Homo sapiens: one gene and its partners. The protein of the gene in region 2 interacts with the protein of the main gene of each other region in a pairwise test. Each region holds a gene or a part of one and is shown on either strand. Other genes may lie near its edges.

Region 1 (7,614 bases), on a different chromosome or scaffold from region 2:
CTGAACACCAGTCCCCTGGGCCCACTTTTCTTCCTCTGTACTTTCTCTCTGTGTCTGATTTCTTTTCTCAGTCTCTCATTTCCACCTTGCAAAAAATACCCACAGGTGTGGAGGGGCAGGCCCCCTTCAGGCAGGTGGACCACTTGAGCCAGAGTTGGAGACCAGCCTGGCCATCATGGTGAAACCCCATCTCTACTAAAAATACAAAAATTAGCCAGGCAAGGTGGCACCTGCTGGTAATTCCAGCTACTCGGGAGGCCGTGGCACAAGAATCACTTGAGCCCAGAAGGCAGAGGTTGCAGTTGAGCCAAGCACGCCACTACACTCCAGCCTGGGCGACGAGAGCAAGACTCTATCTAAAAAAATTAAAAAAAAAAAAAAAAATCAATAAATGGTACTGGGGATGGGGACAGAAAGTTAAAACCCCCCTCACAACATACACAAAAACCATTTTAGAATCAACTGTCAATTTCAATGGTAGAAACATATCAATAAAGCTTTAAAGAACATTAATATAGGAGAATCTCTCAATGTTATTAGGGTATGGCCAGATATTTTAAAGAGGCCACATAAAGCACCCTATAAAGCAAACTATATCCTGCTAGGGGAACTGTAAGTGGTACAACCACTTTAGAAAACAGTTTGACATCTATTTAGACGGAGTTTATACACACTCTATGAAGCAGCAATTTTCCTCCGAGGTGCACATCTAGATATACATCTCTGCCTCCCCCATATGAGAGCACATATGAACCAAAAGACATTTACACAAATTTTCACACATGCATTATTCTTAATAATACAAGCTTTAGGTAATACAAATGTAATTAATAATAGAAAAAACTGCTATATTTTACATAATGGAATGTGATAGAAAACCTATTATACCTTTGGTCCAGCCTGCAAGAATGCTTTTTACATTTTTGAAAGACTGTAAAACAAAAAGCAAATTAGCATATGCAAGAGACCATATGTAGCCTGCAAGCCCTAAAATATTTACTGTAAATTCGCCTGATCCTTGTCATTGAGCAAAGAAAATATACTCAGATGCAACAGGAAAGACCCTCACCAATAATGAGCAAAAGAAGGCTGACACAAAAAAAGAGTGATGTACAATTCCACTGATATACAGAGTTTAAAATAGGCAAAACTGTATTAACTACAATGATAAATAATGATTAATTATATAAAGAAAAGCCTAAAATACTTTTCGGTGTGAGAATGGAAAAAGACTCACAGAACACCACTGGTGTGCTGACCATATTCTATTTCTTGACCTGGGCAATGACTGCTTATACATATATTGCCTCCATGATAATTAAATTGTACATTTAAAATATATAAATGTAGAAAAATTAACAAAGTAAAGGAAGAGATCAACCATACCAAACAGTTTACCTCCAGGAAAGGTGTTAACTCCAGACAACACAACGGGTGAATTTTACAGGTGGGTAATAAAACAAGAACGTCCACTAACACCCTATTTTCCTACTTTATACTGGAAAGTTGAGCCAATGCATTAAGATAAGAATGAATTATAAGCATTACAAAGTAAGACAGAAAATTAATGTTATTTTCAGGCGATATCATCACGAACATGGAAAAAGAGATTCAAGAAATTACATATTTAAAAAAGAAAATGCTCCCTCAGAAACTCCCAGGCAGATTTTCACATACATAGTTGGCTAGAATTGCACCATACGCCTAAGCTCATTTCCATGTCAAACCTATCACTAGCAATGGCAATTGGAACCAGCAAGATTGGCTAAGACCAACAAGGCCTTACTAAGAAACTGGGATTTGGGTCGCCTTGCCACAGGGATGAATACTTCACGAAATGGAGATTCTGTTAAGAAAGTGTGAATATAAGGCGGGCAAGCAACACTCACTATATATTAAGAAGTGAAGGCCGGGCGCGGTGGCTCACGCCTGTAATCCCAGCACTTTGGAAAGCCAAGGTGGGCGGATCACCTGAGGTCAGGAGTTCGAGACCAACCTGCCCAACGTGGTAAAACCCTGTCTCTACTAAAAATACAAAAACTAGCCGGGCGTGGTGGCGTGGGCCTGTAGTCCCAGCTACTCAGGAGGCTGAGGCAGGAGAATCGCTTGAACCCGGGAGGCGGAGATTGCAGTGAGCCGAGATCGCGCCATTGCACTCCAGTCTGGGAGACAAAAGTGAAACTCCGTCTCAAAAAATAAAAAAAATAAATAAAAAATAAAAGAAGTGAATGCAGAGGTTGGCAACATTTTCGATTTTGCCGGCCACGAGGTCTCTGTCACAACAACTCAACCGCTGCCTTTGCAGCCATAGACAATATATAATCGGAGGGTATGACTGAACTTGACCCCCCGATCTGTAAATAGCCACCCCAAGGATCAGAAGAGTAGATATATGGTTTCGAACTAATGCTGGGGGCTGTGTCGCCTTTTGCCCCAGTAACCGAGGTTCGAACCTCAACCCAGGACCCAGGGCTCCAAAGTCTCGAAAGCTTCAGCCCTCACAAGCCTTTGTACCACAGACACTGGCCCCATGCCTCTTACTCATCCGAACCACGGACCAGACACTCTACAGCGATGGACATCCTCCCAGACTCCAACATCACTGAGTTCCAAATTAAATCCTGAACCCGAAGCAGACGCCGCATCGATCCTAATCGCCACCTCCATCCTTTACAAGCAGAGTGATCCATACCTTGACAGTTAGGACACGGCCGTTGATCACTACAGACCCTTAGTCACTGTACTCACACCAAAGGCACGCGGACCACAGACAGGGGGATCACAGACTCCCACCAGGTACCTCCCAAATGCCTATACCCCGGCGCTCCCCAGTCTTCCTGCCAAAAACTATGTGGTCCAGGGTACACCACGTCCTCAGATCTCCCAAACCTTCCACTGAGACAAAACCTGAACTAGGACAAAAAACTTTCAGGGACAAAACCACACACTGACCTCTATTTTCTCCAGATACACAAGAAGGGCCTCAACGTTACACTTCCGTAAACTGCTCCTACTTCTGGAGTCCTCGCACGGGTTTATGGTCCACCTACGGCGGCCGAGGAGAACCTAAAATGTTTAAAAGAGCAAGGACAAGCGCATTTACGGCATTTCCTACTCTGTAAAATGGCCGCGCCCATAGCCGTGGCTCCTGACGGCAGCCATGTTTGAAAATTGGACGCACAGAAGGCAGTGGCAGGTTTTTGAGCCAGGAGCCAGGGAAGAAGAGAAGTCACTGAAATCGCCTCGTTTCCTGGCACTTAAAGTCTTGCGAAAGGGGGCAGATTTTCAGAGACTCAGGCTTTATCAGGCAAATATGGGGCAAGCTAAATTGCCTTTAGCGCTTTTCCATCCACTTTGTTAAATTTAAAAAAAAAGGTTTTGAAAAAGACAAGTAACAGTGCAGCCAGGTGTAGGTATCCCAGAGAATGAATTGGAAATGGAAAAGGTAACAGATCAGGTAGAAAGGGAAAAGGCAACACATCAGGTAGGCAGACACCCACGGGAAAGCGTCTGGCGAAAATTAGCTTGCAGGAAGCGGTTTTTAAGAACAGAAAAATAGCAGGTATTCGGGGGGGCGGGTGGTGAAGAAAGAAAAAAATTATAATTTTTTTTGAGACGGAGTCTTGCTCTGTCGCCAGGCTGGAGTGCAGTGGCGAGATCTGGGCTCACTGCAACCTCTGCCTCCCTGGTTCAAGCGATTCTCCTGCCTTAGCCTCCCAAGTAGCTGGGACTACAGGCACGCGCCACCACGCCCAGCTAATTTTTGTATTTTTAGTAGAGACTGGCTTTCACCATGTTGGCCAAGATGATCTCGACCTCCTGACCTCGTGATCTGCCTGTCTCGGCCTCCCAAAGTGCTGGGATTACAGGTGTGAGCCACCGCGCCTGGCCTCGAAAAAATGATTATTATTTACAAAAAAGAAGAAGAAGAAGGAGGAAGAGGAGGAGGAGAAGGAAGAGAAAAGAGGAGAAAAGAAGAGAAAAGAGGAGAGGAGAGGAGAGAAAAGAGATTTTGAGAATGAATTACGATGTGAGCCTGGCCACGACAGACTAAAGGAATTGGGCCTCCTAGAAAGGCCACTTTTAGTAAAGGTGCCAATGGGAAGAGCAGAGCCAGAATTGAGAGTATAAAAATATTGTTAAGAGTTTTTGACAAAAGTGCCAAGACAATTCAATAAGAATAGTCTTTTCAACAAGCGGCACTGGGATAATTGGATATCCACATCCAGAAAAATGAGTTAGGACCCTCAAACCATACACAAAAGTTAACTCAAAATAGATCATAGATCTAAGTTTAAGAGAAAGTATAAAACTTAGAGAAGGAAAAGGGAGATAATCCTCATGGACGTGAGTTAATTCTGAGAGGAGAGTAAAGGATGACCCACAAAACAAAATAAAATTAATAAAGTGGACTTGATTTTTTTTTAAGTTTGTGCTTCTAAACACAACATTTAAGAAAGTGAAGTGGGGCACGGTGGCTCACACCTGTAATCCCAGCACTTTGGGAGGCCGAGGCAGGCGGATCATCTGAGGTCAGGAGTTCCAGACCAGCCTGGCCAACAAAGCGAAACCAGTCTCTACTAAAAATACAAAAATTACCCGGACGCGGTGGCGCGCGCCTGTAATCCCAGCTACTCGGGAGCCTGAGGCAGGAGAATCGCTTGAATCCGGGAGGCGGAGGTTGCAGTAAGCCGAGATCGCGCCACTGCACCCCAGCCTGGGCGACAGAGCAAGACTCCTCGGTAAAGACACCACTTCGTCACCCTGAATTACTCTGATTTTTATGGGTACAATGAGAATAGTGGACCTAGGAAGAAAAAGTTTTTAAATAGAAACCTTCAGGACAGATTTGGACTTGAAAGACTGACAGGAAGTGTTTCCAGCATCCAGTTAGTCTCAAAGCAACCACTAACCTTCAACTGCACACCTGAAAGCCTCCAGCCTCATTACATTCTCAAACACAGACAAGCCCCGTCTTCCTCTAAATAAAATTGCCTTCAAATTCAATTTAAAACTTACCACAGAGGCACTCCTTTGACACTCCTCCCCCTAGACCTTTCATTCACGCCACTCCTCTTCCTAGCTCGGGCTTCTCTGTATCTGAGCCCCATATTAAATTGCAAATCTGAGCAAAAAACAGCATTCACTGAGACACACTTTCCCCAGTTTTCTATTACTGAGACTCATGAAAAGTGAACATATAGACCTCAAGCTCTGTCCGTGGGACCCTCAGTCATTAAACTCTTAAAACTAAGCCTTAACCTTTGACATCCCAAGGGTCTCTTTCTCACACCCATATTCCTCGGTGACTAAACTGAAATAAAACCCCTGAACACGGACATTCACATGCGTTTCCACTTCATGGTCGTCCCCACAAGCTCCCCATCCGGATTCACACGCAGCATCAGGCTTTCAAGGCTACAGTAGCAGCTGCCAAAGGCTGAACACGTATCAGAACCTACTTCCGATTCTGGAATTCTGGTGCTGCAACCCCATCCTTCGCCATCTCTAAGAACACCGAGAGACTGGGAGGCGGGCTTCCGGAGAGGGATATGGGACATTTCCCAAAGTCCAGGTTCTGGCTTTGAACATTTTATATGAGGTAACATAGCTGTTTTACCTCATAGAGCATATTATGTCATTTCTGATGGGAGTGACCGTAGATTATTAGTGGAGTGATAGACACGCACATCAACAGAATAGAGTCAAGAAATGGACACAAGAACAGGCAACTGATTTTTACAAATGTTCAAAATCAATTTAATGGAAAGAGGACAGTGTTTTCAATACTGTTGAATCAACTGGGCAACCATAGGCTGAACTTTAAATTAACCCTTACCCTATATACAAAGATGAATTTAAATGGATATTGCTAAATATTAAAAAGCAAAACTGGCTGGGCGTGGTGTCTCACGCCTGCAATCCCAGCACTTTGGGAGGCTGAGGTGGCCAGATCACGAGGTCAGGAGATCAAGACCATCTTGGCCAACATGGTGAAACCCCGTCTCTACTAAAAATACAAAAATTAGCTGAGCATGCCGGTGCGTGCCTGTAATCCTAGCTACTTGGGAGGCTGAGGCAGGAGAATCACCTAAACCCAGGAGGCGGAGGTTGCAGTGAGCCAAGATCATGCCATTGAACTCCAGCCTGGGTGAGAGAGTGAGACTCTGTCTCAAAAAAAAAAAAAAAAAAAAAAAAAAAAAGAAGCAAAACTACATTATTTTGTCAAAGGAAGTGGAAAAAGAATTATCAATTACAGTAAGGAAGGAATACTTAGATGTAATGCCAAAACCCCACAATCCATTAAAAAAAAAAAGGCTGGGTGCAATGGCTCACACCTGTAATCCCAGCACTTTGGGAGGCCATGGTGGACAGATCACCTGAGGTCAGGAGTTTGAGCCCAGTTTGGCCAACACGGTGAAACCCCAATCTCTACAAAAGTACAAAAATTAGTGGGACATGATGGCAGGTGCCTGTAATCCCAGCTACTCGGGAGGCTGAGGCAGAAGAATCACTTGAACCTGGGAGGCAGAGGTTGCAGTGAGCCGAGATCATGCCATTGCACTCCAGCCTGGGCAAGACAGCAAGATTCCATCTCAAAAAAAAAAGTTGGACTTCATCATAATTAAAATCTTTTTCTCTGAGAGAAAAAAAGAAAGAACCACATCTATGGAAAAATATTTGCAAGTGATATAAAACCTTTATCCAGCTGGATAAAATCTTTATCCAGCATTAATAAACAATGCTCTAAGCAGCGCACAGTGGCAAATGCCTGCAGTCCCAGCTACTCTGGAGGCTGGGACAGAAAACTTCTCAAGACCAGGAGTTTGAGACTGTAGTGTGCTATAATGGTGCCTGTGAATAGCCACTGCACTCCAGCCTGAGCAACATAGTGAGACCTTGTCTCTTAAAAAAAAAAAAAAAAAAGCCTTTAGGGAGGTGCAAATGGAAGGCCACATACAATTGGTATGTTTGTATTCATACCAATACACACACAATAGAATAGGTAAAATAAAACATTCCAGTCCTGCGTGGTGGCTCACGCCTGTAATCCCAGCACTTCAGGAGGCTGAGGCGGGTGGATCACAAGGTCAGGAGTTCGAGACCAGCCTGGCCAAGATGATGAAACCCCGTCACTACTAAAAATACAAAAATTAGCCAGGCGCAGTGGCAGGCACCTGTAATCCCAGCTACTCAGGAGGCTGAAGCAGGAGAATCACTTGAACCCCGGAGGCAGAGGGTGCAGCAAGCCAAGATCGTGCCACTGCACTCTAGCCTGGTCAACAGAGCAAGACTACATCTCAAAACAAAACAATACAAAACAAAAAAAATACTGACAGCATCAAGTGGAAGAATGTGGAGCAACTGAACCTTTCTATATATTGTTGGTGAGCAATGAAACACCACTCTGGTTAGTATCTTACAAAGGTAAACATACACTTACCTTATGACCCATGAATCATACTCTGCAGTAATTATCCTAGAGAAGTAAAAAATTGTGCTCACACAAAGCCTGTGTGTACAAATGTTCATAGGATTTTTATTTGTAACAGTAAGAAAAACCGGGAACAAAACTAATGTCCTTCAGTGGGTGAATAAACAAATAGTGGTATA
Region 2 (4,026 bases):
ACAAAACAAAACATAAACAACACTGAAGAACCCATACTAATTACTCTTAAAGAGAAATGAAATACCTGGACATAAAAAAGAAAGAAAAGGCCAGGCGCGGTGGCTCATACCTGTAATCCCAGCACTTTGGGAGACCGAGGCGGGTGAATCACTTGAGGTCAGGAGTTCAAAACCAGCCTGGTCAACATGGTGAAACCCCGTCTCTACTAACAATACAAAATTAGCTGGGCGTGGTGCACATCTGTAAATCCAGCTGCTTGGGAGGCTGAGGCAGGAGAATCGCTTGAACCCAGGAGACAGAGGTTGCAGTGAGCCAAGATCACGCCATTGCACCCCAGCCTGGGTGACAGAGTGAGACTCTGTCCCCCCCCCCCAAAAAAATCAAACTGGAGATATTCCCCTGGCCCACCGACATTTGACTCTTTGTTGTGTGCTTAGTAGAGGATTAGAAATAAACCCGAAAAAGTGAAAGCAAAAAGAGAAATATGTGAGATGATAGATATGTTAATTAGCTTGATTTAATCATTCCACAATGCATACATATATCAAAACATCACATTGTATCCCATAAATATATACAATTTTTATGTCAATTAAAAATAAATGAATAAAAAAGAAAAGGTGAAAGCAATACATTTGAAATCTCCTTTACATTCGAAATTTGATATCAGTATTGAAAACAGGATGCTTCATTGGAAGATGGGATTTTAATATGAAAAGATAGTCAACTAAGGACTCCATGTATTTGGCATGAGCCATTTCCCAGGTGACTTGGGGGCTTCTACATTGTATAAACTCGATGTGCAAGCATGAAAGATCGCCCTCTGGTGAAAGCTGGTCAGATGGAGAGGAACGGTGGAATTGCCAATCATCAGTGGGATGGTTTTCCCTGCTGATTTTGTTTCTGTGTAGGTGTGGGATGATTTAAATGCATATTTTAGGCATTAGAGAAACTCAAGTAGTACAAAATACCGGATTTTTTTTTTCCTGAAAGAGTTGGCCGTTTTTTATTACCTTGATTTTTTAAACTATCTTTAAAAGGGAAAAATACTGTACATATTTGCCTCAAATGTAACAAGTTTAGTCATATTTTTATAGATATTAAGAAATGCAGGGGTCTGGGGTGGCATACACAGCCTCTTCAGATAAAACATTTCTGTTTATATCCACGAACCATTCCCCTGTAGATACTGCAAATAAGCAGTAGAAACATCTAGGCTTGTTAATGTTCAGAAGGGCCTTGCTATGATGATGTAGAGGGTACCAAAAAAGATCTGTGTGTCTCTTGACTTTCGGTAAAAATTAGAGTTTATTAATGCCCCTTGCTGCAAAGTATTACAGCTCTTTGTGGGAAATTGTTCTGGGTACATTTTTGATTAAATTCCACCCTGAGCACGTTCTGCCTTTCCTGGAGAAAAGTGATGTGACTCACATTTTTTAAAGCTTTAGGTTTGACTATTATTTTTTTCTAGTAGGGTTTTATGCTTATCTGTCTCAAAACTGACCAAGCTGAACTCATTATGTGCTCTAGCATTTGGATACTTTTTCCTAGTTTGAAAATAGTTTATTATGACCAGAATCACCCACTTGCCTAAGTGTGAAGAAACCCAACTAAAATACTGGGAAACACAACATTAACTATGGGGTCTTTTTGGAGGAACAGATGATAAGGTTTCTGAATACTGAATTAGTGGTTACTTTGACAAGCTGTGGTCTTACGATCTATTGCCATGGAAGCAACTTAAAAATGTATTGTGATTTAGCCCAAAACTTTACAATGTAATATGCAATTTCAGGAACTTCTTTCACTAGCAATGACAATAAGAGAGGGGCCATGTTTAAATGTTTAAACTATTTTATGTCTAGGGTGAGGATCTTTTCCAACATTACTAAATATTCAACATAGCTTCTCTTCTTTTTTGTTTTCTCACCTACTACAATTGGACTGTTAAAGCAACATTGAACAGTTATCACTATTTTGTCATTAATAATTATTGGCAGAGATTATCTTTGCTGTTAAAAATACTAAGAGCATTGGCTATGTAGACATATTTTTTACAACTTTGAAACCTTTGTACATTTAGAGGAATGAGAGAAGTTTGATCAAGAAATTACTAAAACCAAGCTGAAATTTCTTTTGTTTGGGCCTAGCATTCAATAATTCAATAATTTTGCTCAAGGGTTCTAAGCTGGATTGTAAACCACAACAAATAGTGGGTGGTTGTATTATGGGATCATAAACAATAGGAAGAGAACTTGAGTGTATTCAAAGCTGCTGAAGAGGAATTATAGGTCAATAATTCAAAAGAGAATATGGGGTCTCTTTATTCAGAAAAACATAGATTCAGGCTCTGTATCTTTATCTTATAGACAATCCAGAACAATTTACATTATCCTCAGCTCATATTCAGTCATTCCTCACATATTTGATTGTTTTCAGCTTCCCAGTAATTACTTTTTCCCTGTTATACTCTATGCCAAGGTTTTTTGGGGGAACTGCACTAGGGTTCCTCTTAATGTCCCCTCCCATCCACTCTGTGTGTGTGTGTGTGAGAGAGAGAGAGAGAGACAGAGAGTTTGGTATAAGCTTCTAAGCTTCTAGTCTTGGATAGTTCTTCTGTTGCTTGTGTGACTGTTCTTCTAAATGGATGTTGCCTATCACCAGGCCTCCATGCATGGCACTTCCTTTCCTTGAGGTTGATGAAATGCACCGGTTTTCCCGTCAAACTGATGCTAGGGATCAATGGAAACTGCCCACTTCTTCCTAAGACGAGGAGTTGGCAATTTGGAGGGATCACCCCATATATTCTTCCTCACCACTTCTTTCCCCCTTCTCTGGATCACCAAGCAAATATTCTAAATAAATTTCCACAATTCCATACCTTGGAAGAGATCTCTGTCGTTTTGGGTCTATGCTATTCTTCTTGCTTATGACTTGGAAAATTCCAACAAATGCAATTTTCCCACTGTGAAACTGTTAGCAATTTTTAAATTGCAAGGCACATTCACTTTTCCAGGTTTCTTTTCTTTAAAGCTTACTATTTGGCTGCTCTTAGCTGTGCTCGTGCATAAGAAACATATAGAAGGGGAAGATAACATTTTTTCAATGGTATCCTGCAGACATCCGAAGCCTTTGGCCTGCCAAACCTTACAGAACTATAGGGCTGGGCCTGCCAAGGCATTTTAATGTGCCTCAAATGTGTCAGGCATATTGTAAAAGGTGGTGTGCATGTGTATGTGTGCATGCACATCTGTGATATGTGTGTATGTAAGCATGTGCATATGTACAGGTATATGTTTCTATGTTTTATAGTTGTGTTGTACACACATATATGCATGTGTACATTTATGTGTGTCAATGTGTATGTGTGTGTGTGAAGCAGAGCCAACGGGTCATTACCAGTTTGCCCAGTCACCCACAGTCCTGGGAGGCATCGTGGCAACTGCCTTGGTGATTCTGGATCAGTGCGTAAAGGCAATTTTGACAGGATGGTAATTTAAAGAATAAATATCTGAAAGGCTGAGCTAAACATGTTCAAGATTCATCCTAGAAAATTAAGGAAATTGTTTTGTCAAAGAGAACGTTATTAGTTTTCCTGAGCATGAGCCTGGAATGAGTAATGGAAATGGGCTGGGTCTTTGCCATTTTGCAGGAATTAGACAAAGCACTTTGTTGATCCTAATGAACAAAGCCCTTGCCGGGCACGGTGGCTCACGCCTGTAATCCCAGCACTTTGGGAGGCCGAGGCGGGTGGATCACGAGGTTAGGAGATCGAGACTATCATGGGTAACACGGTGAAACCCCATCTCTACTAAACACACACACACACACACACACACACACACACACAATTAGCCGGGCGCGGTGGCGGGCACCTGTAGTCCCAGCTACTCAGGAGGCTGAGGCAGGAGAATGTCGTGAACCTGGGAGGTGGAGCTTGCAGTGAGCTGAGATGGCGCCACTGCACTCCAGCCTGGGTGACAGAGTGAGACTCCATCTCAAAAAAAAACAAACAAACAAACAAA
Region 3 (7,663 bases), on a different chromosome or scaffold from region 2:
ATTTGGATGGCGGCTACCATTTCACGATCCATGTATCTGTGTAGGATTGAGGCTGTATCAAGAATCAGCAGTTGGAAGAACAGTTTCAGGGGAAAAAACTTAAAATTTTGTGCATAAACTATATTTATATATTTATAGATATAACCTTATGTTGAAGATCATCTCAATTATATATGTGTATTCTCACCCATTGCAGCCACAAACAATTCTTTGCAGAGAATTTTCCAGCAATCGTTGGCACACAAACCCTGCTCTTAGCAAGCACTTGCACATGTATCTTAGCCACATGAACATACATAATCCTGGCAGGAAGCAAAAATATATTTGCTTTATAACTTAAAATGAACAACTGGAGACAAATTTACCTTTTTGTGGGGGAAAGGGATGAGGGCAATTAGGAGGAAGCAAAGCGAACGCAACAAGGGTTAATCCTTAACCAAGAGCAATCCACGTCCCTTTTGAACAAATGAGAACAAACAAGGCTACTGAATCATTAAATAATAACAACGATTTGAAATGATAATAATACTGATGATGACGATGAGTTTGCAGCCACTAGCCTGCAGCGGAAACCTTTCTGAGGGGTGCAGAAAGCGAGGCGAGATCGCCCCCACCACCCATTCTCAGAACCTTTCTGGACGTGCGAGTGAACTGCGAATTGTGGAAAGCGGGGGTAGCTCAGGACACTGCGCAGAAACCGGTCTCCCCGGCTGCACCGCGGGGGCGAGCGCCCAACTCCGGGGAGGGGAGCGCAGGGCGCGGCGCGGGGCTCTGCAGGGCTGGCTGCGCTCCACACACCCAGTCGCCACGTGCGCCCCCACCCGGCCAGCGGTAGGCGGCTCTGGGCCTCAGCTGGGAGGGGTGGGGCCGAGCCGCGCCCCGCTGGAGGAGCGAGGGTCTCCCTTAGAGAAGCCCCTCGCGGGGTCTCCATTCTGGAAAATCATAGAGAACAGAGGGTGGGCGGGGGGCTTGGGCTGGGGGAAAAAAAGCCCCGAGCTCCGCGGACCGTGGGTGGGCGAGAAGAGACAGCCCTCCCTGAATCCCTGGGAAGGGGGTCACCTCTGCGGTCTCGCGCCCGGGCTGGGTGGGGCCGCGCCTTTGTGTGGCCGGGCGGGGCTCGAGCCAGCTTTTCTGCAGAGCCACCCGCTTGGCTGGGAGGGGCTCGGTGCTGGGGCTGAGAGCCACGCCGGGGGTCTGCGCACATCAAGGGGTGCTCGGGCCGTTGTGGACTGCGGGGCTGAAAAAAGAGGTTCCAGGACTGCATACAGCTCAACTGCCCCTCCCATATTCCTCTTCCCCGCCAGTCTCGGAGCCTGAGGTCTCCCCGGCTCCGCGGGGAGGGTAGGGCAGGGCGGAGCCGCGCAGATGGAGTCCTTTCGGCAGCTTTCCCTGTCTCCGCATCCTGCAACCAAGTCCCGGGGGACACGTGCTTCCAGCTGCCACAGGACCCCAGGCCCCACCCTGCCTTTTCACCCCGGGGCCACTGAGCGCCAGAACCGTGGGCACTCAAGGCACAAGACCAATTGCGGATGAAGGCCCTGAATCCAGAATCTTTTCCGGTCATCCTGTGTCTCCACTGTCTTGTCTCTCTGAGCTTATGAAATTGCCGATATTTGGCACTGTCTGACCCACAAAACGGAAATTTCGCGTGGCTTAACTTAAGACTTTGACCTCTTTTGCTTTATATACGATTTCATGTCATCTCTATTATTATACATACACATGTCTAGGTTCTAGAAGCTTTTCCCGCAAACGATCAAAGGTCTTCAAAGAACCCTTTATCTGTGTCTATGTCTAAACACTCTATGTAATTTGCTTCCGAAAAGAAAAATGTTAACCCACTTTTCCCATCTCTCTTAAAAGCAGAACAATGAGGCCAGCGTGGGGAGGGCGGGGTCAGTGGTCAGGTCTCTCTTGGAAGCCGCGGCGGGGAGTCGGGAGCGGGGAGCGCGGGGCGTGGCGCCGCTGTCCCCGCAGGGTTGGGCTCCTGGGTGTCACGCTGCGCTCCCCACCCGACCCCCTTTCGAATGAAGATGCAGCACCGGGCGGGGGGGCGGGGCTGCGCGGTTCCGCACTGGGTGGGGCTGTCCGCATTGTGCGCCCAGCGCTGCAGGTGCCTCCCCCCGGGACCGCTGGTCCGCACACAAAGAAACCCCACCCCAGCGCCTTCGAAGCCGCTGTCCCTCCACCCCTCCCTGCCGCGCGCTTCCCCGCCCCTGCAGCTGCCCACCCGCGCCCTCCACGCCCTCCGCGACTTCCTCTCTCCTTCCCCTCCCTTGCCCTAAAACAAAGGAGCGGAGGTCCTACCCCCACCCTGTCCCCCGCCGTCTTACCTCCCTGCACCGCACCCCAGGACTAGCGGTTTCTTCGACGAGACAATACCGTAAAATGTGCCCAGTTCTCTCCATCCCCTCCCCCCGTCTCCACCCATCTTTCAAACAGCGGGATGGGACCGCTTTGACTTTGCAATTTTCTTTTTCCTTTCTCCCACCTTCCCTTTACCCCTTTCCTATTTTCTTCTTAAACTAGAGAAGAAATAAAAAAAAAAAAGGTCGTTATAAAGCACTTTCCAAAATGTCCCTTAAGCCCATTTAAGGCAAACAGTTAAGGTAGCTTCCTCCCCTCACGATTGAGTCCTAATTTTAAATATGGAAACAGAATAAATTCTCTACCCATAGGAGGGCAACTTACCCGCTTCTACCTTTTAAAAGAAATTCTTCGCTTTAGATTTCCATAGACCTCTTCTCTGCCCTCCCACCTCCCCCAGAACTGCCCTGTCCTTCCTGGTCCTGTGTTACCATTAACATCTTTTTCTTTATAAAATATCTCTGAATGCTTCTAGAGCTCAAGAGAGGAGGTGAGAGGTGGGCTCCAGGTAGAGCCGACGGAGAACGAGGCGCAGTGCCTTACCCATTGCTGTTTTAGCCATTGTAGGGATGTGCAGACGCTGAGCAGTGGCGAAGGCAAAGGGTCCGGCTACAGCAGCGGAGAGAGCGAGAGAGAAGACTGAATAAGGCACTGAGTCTGCAGAGTGGGACCGTGCTAGAGAAAGAGCAAGAGGCAGGAGCCCATGAATAATTATCACTCAGAAGCTCAAGCAGATTGGCTCCCAAGGTCCCCTGACATGACTCCCGCAGAGTCAGAATCTCCAAGCATTAAATATTGATCGGCCAATGGTGCTGGAGTACAAAGTACCAGAATGCAGTTTGAAATGGAAATCAGTCCTTCCCTGTCGGCTCCCCCCATTTTGGGGGCCTGATAGTACAGTCCAAGTAGAGTGGAGCTTTAAGCCCTGAAGCTTCCTAGGAGCTAAGAACTGGGCTGTGCCTACCTGGGAGCCAGGAGGCTTGACTTTGCTCATACATGTGCCATTGCACAATTCAATGGAAAAGGATTCAGAAGCTTGAGAAGTCCTCACTATATGCAGGCTGTTGGAAAATTCTGTTTAAATACTGTGTTTTCACTTTTTCATATTTTCTTTCACCTTTGGCTCTGTCCTTGGTTCTAGTCTTTCAGGGCTACCCTATGTCTGGCTATGGTGGCAGCTCAGAGCAGACTTGCATTATTGTCCTTTATCTTTTAGCACAGCTGGACTTAGGCGTCTCTAAACTCTTGAAGGTCTCTCAGGAGAGGGAAGCATGGTGTTTTCTTCCCTTGGCACAGAGGAAGGGGCTACCTGGTTGCTTGGGAATAGGGATGGTAATAATGGTCCACCTGGGGACATGGGGGAAGAGGAAGAAAGTTTAACCTCTGGTGCCTGTGTCCTGTCCATTTGTTAACACGGCAGAAAACAGGTTGGCTGGCTGGTTTGGGCATTAAGGAAACCACAGGTGAATGCCATGTTGCCCTGAAGGTGTAGGATTAAGTGGGTCAAAATTTTAGTAACCTTTCCAGGGCTCTAAGGAGAATGCTTTACATGGAAAACTTAGAAGAGATGAAAGGTGTGGTCTGGGTCATTATTTTTCTGAGATCCAGAGAGACTACGTTTATGTAGGCCCAGGAAGGCTGTGTTCAAGTTTCGGATTGAGCAATGTCGTATGTGAGGATCTTTGAGACTAGTTGCAAAAAATGACTTTCATTACAAACAAGGCATTTATTAGTTCCTCCTTCTCACTTAATGGATGCCAGTCATTCATTTGTTCTCTTTCACTTGACTTAAATATGTATTGAGCATTTACCATGTGCACAGCTCTGAAAATGGTGAGAAAAAGTTTAGGAGTTGCTGCATGAAGTTTTTAATTACTGCTAATTTAACTCTTCTGTAACTTTATTGAGCCAGTCTAATTCCATGCAGAAACTGGTTTTAATATTAGAAAAATAGGCAAAGAATTGCTAATTCCGACGTTTGAAAGCCAAAAGAAGAGCACATTGTTGCAATCATGAACAGGTATGAAACCCTGGCAAGTTTTTAATTTCAGAAAAATGAATGTATTTTTTTCTTCTTATTAAAATAGGTTTTTAGCAGCTTTCTGTCCAATCACATTTCAACTTTTTTTTCTATCCTCAGGAACAATACACAGTTTCAAATACATAAAACCAATTGAAAATAGCAGGGCACTCTCCTTGGTGCTGAAATGAATTTCTTCACCTCCTATTAACTTGTAAGACATTTTAACCTCATGGACATTTTGCTGACTGATAGGATGCTACTGGAACTGGAACAGTTTTGACCTGCTGAATCATGGGGAAAATAAAAGATGAAGTGGAGATCAATAAAATTATTTCTTGAACAGGAAGATTAGAAATTATATTTCCTATCTTTGAACAGGTCTGTGACTATGACACAGCAAGAGAGCAATATGGAAGTTGGCAGGGTCTGGAAATAAATAACCATTTTCTCTCTATATATAGGCATTTCCCACTTTAAATGTAACAGTTAATCACCTCTCACTGGAGTAGTTATCACTCATGAGGTGAAGGATCTTCAGCATGTCTGTGTGACTAATATTTTCAAAGTATTTCTCTTCTCCCCACCACACCCTTTCCCCTCAGGCTGTGTGTCATCTCTACACATTCTTCAGCTTCCTTGGAGAACAAGGGCCCTAAGTCATGGCATTAGTTTCTTTAACAACTGCAGTTGGCTGCTGAATGAAATCGATTGCACTTTTGATGACTATGAGGAAAACAAAACACTCATTCTACTGCCCTAAGGGTCACATATGTGACTCTTTTCTATTTCCGATTTTCTAGGTGTTAGCCACCTAACTTCAGTTATGAATGATTTTTAAATAATGTCAAACAGGGAAGAGAGTAGGTCAATATGATTTACCATAGAATAAAAAGATAGTAGGCAAAATTGTCAATCAGCTAAGAAAACACAAATAAATTCAAAGGGCTGTGCCATTATCAAATTGTTTTTTGTTTTCTTTTATCATTACAATATGGTATCATGCATATTCACATGGGAAAGTAAGGGTGAAATATGAACAGAAAAATTATTTCATATTCAATATGTTATTCACTTATTCATTTGTTCAGCTAATTTATTCAACAAATATTTATTTGATGATGTTTCAGGCTTTTGTGATGCCAGCCAAGCTTCTCCTTAATGTCTGAAAAATAGAAAGTGAAGGAAAATATAACACCCATCTCTTTAAGAAAATATTAATTTGGGGGAGTGAATATGATCTTGTGTATTGTGGATCACACTTTGTTGCAAAAATTTGAAAAAATAACCCAAACTGGCACTAATAATAAAAGTGCATTTGCTGTTTCGTCTAACCATATAGATAGAGTTGGCCCTAGAGGTCTGGAGGTGAGATCAGCTTTTCCTGAAGGAAATGGTTTTGATGGGAATGGGTGGACACTCAAAGAATAGGTACTACATTTGCACAGTATAAACTAAGGACAACCAGTATCTGTCGTGTGGGGATTTGGGTAGACTGAAGGGTTATCATGTATGAACTGTCTAAGCCATCATGGATATATAGTAATTTTAAGTACTATGACTATATTTAGTGTTTCCAATACATTTAAACCTTTGAAAGGTAGAGAATGAATAGTGTATATCTTTATACCCTTCCTAGTGGTTGGTTTCATGATTCACGTGGTAGACAGTTAAAAACAATTTGTGAAATAATAAATAATACAGTGTTGAAAATGATTCAAAATGGATGAATCCAGTGAGACCATATTGACACTTCTAACCTCCTTTGCTTAGCTTGTGTTGGGAGCAGGTATTAGGCTGTTTACCAGTGTTTATTTATTTATATCCTGCCCTATTCCCAAAGAACCTAAATGAGTAGAGCTCACAATAGTAGATGGCCCTTGTTAATTTTTGTTATCTTTAACAGCCAGCAGTAAGCTGGAGCTGTGGAAATCACAGACTTGCTAACAGAAATTTTAATTATTGTGGGTTATAGCCTAGTGTGTATTATCTCTGTGAGGAGGCCTGAGGTGTTGATTTCTTTCCAAACCAGAGAGAAGCAGTTGCTTTGGAGGATTAGCTGATGCCATCTAACACAGTCATATGATTTTCTGCTATTCATAATCAAGTGCCTGGGAAAGAATCCTAAAGTAATTATTAAAAGTTAGTGAGATAAGAGAAACATTGTTAAGGTCAAATTAATTGTTTTGATCTGACCTCAGGTGATTACAAAAGAAATGTGAGAGATAAAATCCATTGAATTTTTTTAGATGTTTAGAAATTTAGGATATAAAGTAGTTATAGCTGAAGATATTTAGAGATGCATCTAAAATAATCACACATGAAAAAATAGTTGACTTTTTAACATTTTGATTATTTTGCCATGTTTAAATTCTTATAGATTAATGAAAAATAAAAAGGATCATGTGTCCTTTAATAGAACTGTCTAATATGGTTTATTCAAAAGGAAAGTCATTCCAAGGAGGGAGAGTTGGTGTTCTTTATTAGCAGTGAGCTCTGTATTGCTCAGGAATTTGCCAGTGTGTTAGAGTTATTTCTGAAGTGTGGAACAAACACACTTCATTGTTTTCTTCTTAAATTAGTTATTTAAAAATAAACAATGATTAGTTAATTATTATTATTTTTTCTCTACCTAGGGTTTTCTTTATGTCCAAATGGGACTTGTATGTATTAATAATTAGTATAATTCACCCTGAAGCAAAATGACTTATTGAAATTAGTAAATCCTATTGATAGTTTTATAATTGAACTTTTCTGGAAATAAACTTGTTCTAATCATAAGAAAGGCTTGATATAAATTTAATGAGCTGAATCTTTACATTAAATTGATAATGTTGAAAACTACTCGCTATCTTGGCAGCAATTACTGTAACTAACTTTTTCCTTCTCTCCATGAGTTGATTTACAGCTTGAGTCCAGGGAGAACATTAGTTGGACACCATTGAAGCTGGGAAGTTGGTTCCCCTTGAGATTTCACTCAGCATCTTAGTTTACAAACCAAACAGTGGAGACAACACTGAAGTGCCTGGAAGAGAAATCTGGGAGAAGTGTGACTCACTCTGTTTATCCCACAAGCCTCAATTTATTTTATTTTTTAAACAGAACCCCTACTGTGAGCATTGCATTATACATACAATAACAGTTGCCTAAGAACCTTATTTTTCTAAATCAAGCTGAAAAGAGGAGGAGGAGGATTTAGGGAAGAGAAAAGCAAAAGCATTTTAGTATACTGCCTTCCTGGGAGATTTTCTCATTAGTCATTTATTAACTAATTTT
Region 4 (7,608 bases), on a different chromosome or scaffold from region 2:
CACTGCACTCCAGCCTGGGTGACAAAGTGAGACTCTCTCTCAAAATAAATAAATAAATGCATAAATAAATAACATATGATCAAATCCTCAAAAGAAATCAGGCACCTATTTGAACATGGCATTCTACTGGCTACTATACAAAGTGAGTTGCCTAGCAAAGCCCATGTCTTCCTGGAAGCAGCTTGGGCACACAACCCAACCAGTCAGACATGAAGGATGTTCAGACCACTGGATAAATAGCAAATAACTCATATCCAGCCTCCGTGCATAACCCTGTATGTTTTGCCTACCACCGAGGACCACACTTAAATAGGTTGTGCAAACCAAAGCAAACTGCTCATGGAGGAAATATAAGAAATGACTGTACAGTACAAGAGTATTACTGACTATTTAACCCAGAGGTACTTTTTAAGGAGAAGGGAAAAGAACAATGAGAGAATGGAAAAACAAATTTAGAACTATACGTTACCATTAACTGTTTCTGGCATAAAAATCTCTTTTGATTGCATTTTAGTGGGGATTCACACTCCAGATGCACCAAATTTAGCTTCAGCATCAGTATTTGACCAACATCAGACAGTCGGCTTTGGCCTTTAAAAACTAAATAAGGAATGCTAACTTCAAAAACACTTTTGGCAGCCCTGAACCTGTAACTGATGAGTATGGGATGACAGAGGTCACCATTGCATCTAATCAGGGTTAAAGGCAATCATACACAAGCCAGGTCCTTCAGATTTATTTTGGTATGTAAACGTTTGCTTTCAAATATTTGTAAGCATTCTAGATGGAACAGAGTGAAATGCCCCTTATGTGCTTAAAAATGTAAATTTTGGCTGGGCGCGGTGGCTCACGTCGGTAATCCCAGCACTTTGGGAGGCCAAGGCGGGTGGCTCACGAGGTCAGGAGTTCAAGACCAGCCTGGCCAAGATGGTGAAACCCCATCTCTACTAAAAATACAAAAATTAGCCGGGCGTGGTGGCAGGTGCCTGTAATCCCAGCTACTCAGGAGGCTGAGGCAGAGAAGTGCTTGAACCCAGGAGGTGGAGGCTGCAGTGAGCGGAGATCATGCCACTGCACCCCAGCCTGGACGACAGAGCAAGACTCCATCTCAAAAAAAAAAAAGGTAAATTTTATCAGTCGGTATTACAAAAGTAAAAAGCTACAGTAATTAGGGTGAAAGCTGTCAATTTTACCTATTAAAATAAGTAAGAATATTTAATTCAATAAGCACAGTGAACATCAATATCGAAAGACAATTTTCGGTGGTACACTATAGTCGGGTGTGGTGGCTCATGCCTGTAATCCCAGAACTTTGGGAGGCCAATGCGGGAGGACTGCTTGAGGCCAGGATTTGAGATCAGCCTGGGCAACACAGCAAGACTTTGTCTCTGAAAAAAAAAACTTTAGCCAGGATTAGCGGGGCGTGCCTACAGTCCCAGTTATAGGCTCACAGCAGGGGAGGATCTCTTGAGCTCAGGAGATCAAGGTTGCTGTGAACTGTGTGATCAGGCCACTGTACTTCGGCCTCTGCCACAGAGCAAGACCCCAACCCCCAAACACAAAGTGAAACATATCTCTGGGCGTAAATAAATGTTCACCAAAAATTAAATAATTATGCTAAAATAACAGTTTAGATTTTAATTTTAATCTTTTTATAGTTTCCATTATTATCTTGTTAGGATGAAAAGTAGACTGTCAACTCTGCCACCCCAAAATTTCACATGAAGGAAAAACTCCAAAATTCATGTATGACATCCAACCTAAGTAATTTCAATCCAGTAATAATAAAGAACAGAGAAGGATGAAAAGAAAGTATTGGAGAAAAATTAAGTATTCCCAAATTGCTCCTCCACCAACATCATTTAAAAGTATGCATCCACTGAGTAATGCAAATGTGTAGAATACCAGAGAAGCCATCTAGCAGCAACAACACAGGCACTGTAATTTTAAACGTTTATATTTGCTTCCTATATTTTTGAAAAATAAAGTTGTAATAACAACGTTTTGAAAATTTCCAAACTCTTCCTTGTATCCCAGAGGTTCCTTTTTTGCTCTTTGGCTTTGGCTTTGACTGGATACTGATTTTACCCTTGGCCATTCTGCACCTAACCTGACTGTGCACTAGGTCCCCTGCCATAACCTGGATGAAGGTCTGGCTGAGCGTCTCTGGGATCCTTTACAGCCCCTCTAATGCATCAGTCGGGAATCAAAAGCGTGGGTCCCAACTCTGACAGTGACTTTTGAAGAGTTACTTGTCCGCACTAGGTCTCAGTCTTCTCATCTGTCAAATGGGAATAACAACTGTACCTATCTCACATCTGTTGTAAGGATTAGATAATATATTTAGAGAGCTTAAAATGTTTAAAATGTCCGCTACTGCTATCATCACTATAATTGTAGTGTTCAATGACTGTGATTTCACCAGAGGGTCCGTCTGCCTTACGAAATTGCTGTCAAAAGAGCTTACCAATAATCCGTAGCAGATCACACCAGCTCAACAGGCCTCCACCTCCAGGAAGCCCTCCAGGGGCGGGCCGCCCTGCGCTATGCCCTCTGGCTGGACGCGTAGGGCTCCGGCTCACTCCGCCCAAGTCAGCCTCCCGCATCCCGCACGCCCGCGCTGGGGCCCGCACCTGCTCAGCAGGCCCTTGGGTGCGAAGTGCGCTTCTCCCGCCCCACCCAGGGCAGACAGTCCCGAGCAACGGCGCCCGCCGATGTCTCCCGGGCGCCCAGGAGGCCCGGTCTCTCCAGGGCGGTGAGTTCAGGTGGCCCGCCCCGCCCCGGCCGGAGAAACCCCGAAGCCCCGCCGCCGCGGACTCCAGGCTGCACAGGCCCCCGGGCGACGCGGGCGTCTCCGGGGCGGGCTGGCAGCCCGAGGCCAGGAGAGCACCCGCGTGTTGGCCTGGACGCTGTGCTAGGGCAGCTCTTACTGTTTCACGTTGTCCCCCAGGGCCTCGCTTAAGTTCTTCTTGGCCGCCTCCAGCTCGCTCACAAAGGTCGCCATTGCTCCGCGTGTCTCAGCCCGACCGCAGACCGCCCGGCCACCGCGATCAACAACCCAAAAACCAACTCGGCGGAAGGCCTTGGCTCTGGAAGCTAAGCCGGCCGCCGTCAGTCCCGCCCCCAATCTCTCAGAAGTCGTTTGTTTGGTTTTCGGCTCCGCCCGCCTTTTCGCAGGGAAGGTGCCCGGCCAAACTCTGCTCTCTTCCTCCCGCCCCTCGAGTCACGTGATCCGCTTCACCTTGTCGCGCGCCCATCCTAAACCCGCGCGCCCCGCCTCGGCTGCAACGTTGCTGACAGGCTGGCGTGTCCCAAGCTCTTTCATTCTGTTACCGCTGGGGCAATTCCGAATTCAGCCTGCTGTTCTTCTGCCTGGAGGAGTACCTTACCCCTCCATTTAAAAAAGTAAATGCAGTATCAGTTTTACTCTTTCCTTGCCTTATTTTTCCCCGAGCACTAACCGTCTCATATGACATTTAGTTGATTTATCTTGTAAATGTTATGGCTCGAGGACAGGAGTTGTGTTTTATTCACTGTTACCCGCAATTCTCTAGAGCAGCGCCTGGCACATAGTGGATGCTTAATAAGTATTTGAGTAAATGAGGTAACTATGTAAAATTTGGAAAATACACAGAAAGATAAAGATAAAAAGAAGGAAAAAGTGTTTTACCACTCCCGGACAAACACTTAACTGAGAGAGATTTCTCCTTCACTTCGCACACTCCCATGACTTAAAATATTCTATGTTCAATTTTGCACGTTTTTAAACTTAAGGATTTATCTGTAGTATTACATTGTCTTTAGAATAATTTTAATGACAACATATTAAATACCCCCACAGATAGAAGGTACACAACTTGTTTCCCAATTGTTAGACTGTGTCCATTTCTTCTCTATTAAAAAGCAATACTGTAATATTGCTTTTGAAGCATATAGCATAATGAAGCAAAACTTCTTTATGCATAAAACTTTTCCTCCTTTAGGATTATTACTTTAGCATAGAGTCCCACACATAGAATTACTGGATCAAATGATGGGAATATTTATAAATGCCTTGGTGTATATTGTCAAATTGCCTCCCAAAGTTTTTTAAATAATCCTAGATAGCTTTTAGATCTTGTGTAATTTCTCCAAAGATGTCCCCTTAAGTTCATTCATTCAACTTCCTCACTGCCCAACCTAAACCCACAAGCCCTGTCCTGGCTGCAATGCCAGCCGGGCACCTTCTCTTCACTTGAATTCATACAGTGAGCTCCTATTATGTGTCTGGAACTCTTTGAGTACTGGAGATACACAGGTGAAAGGAGATACAAAGGTCAGGCAAAGTCTTCCTCTCTGTGTCAAAACTCTGGGTAAGTTTTGACACATTTAAAAAATATCCACTTAAGTTTTCCATGGCTCCCCACGCTCTGCTGAACAAATTCCAGACTCCAGCATTCAAATGTTCTCATGATCTGAACTCACCCTACCTGTGTACCTCACACACCACTGGCCTTCCCACATAACCCCACACTTGGACTCAGCATTCTAGTTAACTTGACTTTAACAAATCACATGGCTCTTCCCCTTTACGCATATCTCCTCTCTGCTGGTTTTGAGACTTATGGTTGGCTACCTCCATTTTTTTTGAATCAGGTTCAAACATATATATGAATCTATTCAAGGATCAAGTCAACAGGACTAGGAAAGGCTACAGATAGTTGGGTACATCTTCCAGGAAGAATCCCTGTTTCTCATTTGTCTCTAGCCACGAAGAAAGATAGGCCTCAAAGATTTTCTTTTTGAACCCATGCTTGACAATACTCATACGTCTAGCTCAATTAAATATCCCTTTCTCTCTCAGCACTTATACACCTATTAACACTAATTTTACTACAGTTTTTCAGTTAAATGTCCATTTAAACTGTAATGTTAGACAATATAATATACATAAATGGACATCTGACCAAACAATTTAATATTGAGAGGTGAAGCCGCCTGGGCTTCTGGGCTGGGTGGGGACTTGGAGAACTTTTCTGACTAAAGGATTGTAAACGCACCAATCAGCGCTCTGTGTCTAGCTAAAGGTTTGTAAACGCACCAATCAGCACTCTGTAAAAACACACCAATCAGCGTTCTGTGTCTAGCTAAAGGTTTGTAAACGCACCAGTCAGCACTCTGTAAAAACACACCAATCAGCATTCTGTGTCTAGCTAAAGGTTTGTAAACGCACCAGTCAGCACTCTGTAAAAACGCACCAATCAGCGCTCTGTGTCTAGCTAAAGGTTTGTAAACGCACCAGTCAGCACTCTGTAAAAACGCACCAATCAGCGCTCTGTGTCTAGCTAAAGGTTTGTAAACGCACCAGTCAGCACTCTGTAAAAACGCACCAATCAGCGCTCTGTGTCTAGCTAAAGGTTTGTAAACACACCAGTCAGCACTCTGTAAAAACGAACCAATCAGCGCTCTGTGTCTAGCTAAAGGTTTGTAAATGCACCAATCAGCACTCTGTAAAATGGACCAATCAGGATGTGGGCGGGGCCAAATAAGGGAATAAAAGCTGGGCACCTGAGCCAGCAGCGGGAATACAGTCTGGTGGCCTTCCATGCTGTGGGTGCTGTGTTCTTTCGCTCTTCATGATAAATCTTGCTGCTGCTCACTCTTTGGGTCTGCACTACCTTTACGAGCTGTAACACTCACTGTGAAGGTCTGCAGCTTTACTCCTGAAGTTAGCGAGACCACGAACCCACTGGAAGGAAGAAACTCAGGACACATATGAACATCTGAAGGAACAAACTCCGGACACACCATCTTTAAGAACTGTAACACTCACCGCGAGGGTCCACAGCTTCATCTTGAAGTCAGCGAGACCAAGAACCCACTGGAAGGAACCAATGCCGGACACAATATTATAAATGAATACCAAGCCAGGGGTGATGGCACATGCCTGTAGTCCCACCTACTGGGGAGGCTGAAGTGAGAGGATTTCTTGGGCCCAGGAGTTCAAGTCTGCAGTGAGCTATGAGAGCACCACTGCACTCCAGCTTAGGCAACAGAGTGAGACCTCAACTTTAAAAAACAAATTTTTTTGAAAGGAAATGAATATTAAAACCACTTGTAATTTGGAAGGTTACTTTAAAGGAACTAATTCTAAATCTTTTATTATAGCAATATTTGTACAATGCATAGTGCAACTAATAAATAGCTTCAGAGAATGTGTGTCAAAATGCTTTATAAAGAGCAAGAAACTTGACAAATGTTTAGTCTAGTTTTTTTTTTTTTTTTTTTTTTTTTTTTTTGGATCATCCAGCTGGTTACAGGCTGGTTTGAGAGTAACTAGTAGAGTCAACTCAATAAGTTGCTGAGAACAGACATCTGAGGATCCAACCTTACCTGACATCTAAGTATTTATGAATATTTCTCCAAGTATATGGATTATGTGTGTAAATATGTGTATGTATTCTCCACTTATATAAAATAAAATTTCCTTTATATTATCCATATCTTTTTCCATTTCATTAGATAGATAACTGAAGGTTGGTGGTATTATTCATATACACTGCCTGTTTCTATACAACTTTTTTCCTTCATAAATATAATTCTGTACAAACAAAGGAAAACCCTCTAAAAAGTGTATTCTCATAGCTAGTTTACTTACATATTTATAAGAGCCTGGCCTGTACCTCCTTAATTTTTCCCATTCCTATTCTGTATTTTATTAAGCACTGGTCTTTTAACATTAGGATTTCTTTTTTTTATTGTGGTTAGAACACATAATACGTGATCTTCCCTTTTAACAATTTTTTTTTTTTTTGAGACAGAGTCTTGCTCTGTCACCCAAGCTGGAGTGCAATGGCATGATCTCGGCTCACTACAACCTCTGCCTCCTGGGTTCAAGAGATTCTCCTGCCTCAGCCTCCCGAGTAGCTGAGATTACAGGCACGGACCACCACGCCGCGCTAATTTTTTTTGTATTTTCAGTAGAGATGGGGTTTCACCGTATTAGCCAGGATGGTCTTGATCTCCTGACCTCATGATCTGCCCACCTCAGCCTCCCAAAGTGCTGGGATTACAGGCGTGAGCCACCACACAGAGCCCACCTTTTAACAAATTTTTAAGTGCACAATACCTTATTATTGACTACAGGTACAGTGTTGCACAGCAGATCTCTAGAGTCTATTCATGTTGCTTGACTAAAAGTTTATGATTAGTGACTCCTCATTTCCCCTCTCACCAGTTTCTGTTAACCATCATCCCACTCTTTGAGTCTATAAATTTGACTATTTTAGATACCCATGTAAGTGGAGTCATGCAGCAGTATTTGTCTTTCTGAGACTAGCTTATTTCATTTAGCATAATGTTCTCAAGGTTCATCCATGTTGTCACATATTGCAGAATTTCCTTCCTTTTTAAGGCTAATAGTATTCCATTGTGTATACACACACACACACCTCCCACATTTTCTTTATCCATTCATCTGTCAATGAACATTTTGGTTATTTCCACATCTTGGCTATTGGGAATAGTGCTGCAATGAACATAGGAATGCTAATATTTCTTTGAGATCCTAATTTTAATTCTTTTTGATAAATACCTAGAAGTGGGATTGCTAGATCATATGGTAATTCT

Evidence for each region.
Region 1: the proteins of PTCHD1 (region 2) and ZNF350 interact in a two-hybrid assay, tested with the Homo sapiens proteins (one study listed by BioGRID and IntAct).
Region 3: the proteins of PTCHD1 (region 2) and STMN2 interact in a two-hybrid assay, tested with the Homo sapiens proteins (one study listed by BioGRID and IntAct).
Region 4: the proteins of PTCHD1 (region 2) and TADA1 interact in a two-hybrid assay, tested with the Homo sapiens proteins (one study listed by BioGRID and IntAct).

The regions. Positions count from the first base shown.
Region 1 is NC_000019.10:51,983,818-51,991,431, forward strand, and holds the start of ZNF350 (zinc finger protein 350), read right to left. Parts: upstream 3,024-7,614; 5' UTR 2,953-3,023; intron 932-2,952; exon of another isoform or gene 889-931; intron 178-888; exon of another isoform or gene 1-177. UniProt on the Homo sapiens protein: Transcriptional repressor. Binds to a specific sequence, 5'-GGGxxxCAGxxxTTT-3', within GADD45 intron 3.
Region 2 is NC_000023.11:23,400,849-23,404,874, reverse strand, and holds the end of PTCHD1 (patched domain-containing protein 1), read right to left. Parts: 3' UTR 501-4,026; downstream 1-500. UniProt on the Homo sapiens protein: Required for the development and function of the thalamic reticular nucleus (TRN), a part of the thalamus that is critical for thalamocortical transmission, generation of sleep rhythms, sensorimotor processing and attention. Can bind cholesterol in vitro.
Region 3 is NC_000008.11:79,606,462-79,614,124, reverse strand, and holds the start of STMN2 (stathmin-2), read right to left. Parts: upstream 3,009-7,663; 5' UTR 2,930-3,008; coding exon 2,911-2,929; intron 1-2,910. UniProt on the Homo sapiens protein: Regulator of microtubule stability. When phosphorylated by MAPK8, stabilizes microtubules and consequently controls neurite length in cortical neurons.
Region 4 is NC_000001.11:166,873,230-166,880,837, forward strand, and holds the start of TADA1 (transcriptional adapter 1), read right to left. Parts: upstream 3,036-7,608; 5' UTR 3,005-3,035; coding exon 2,931-3,004; intron 1-2,930. UniProt on the Homo sapiens protein: Probably involved in transcriptional regulation.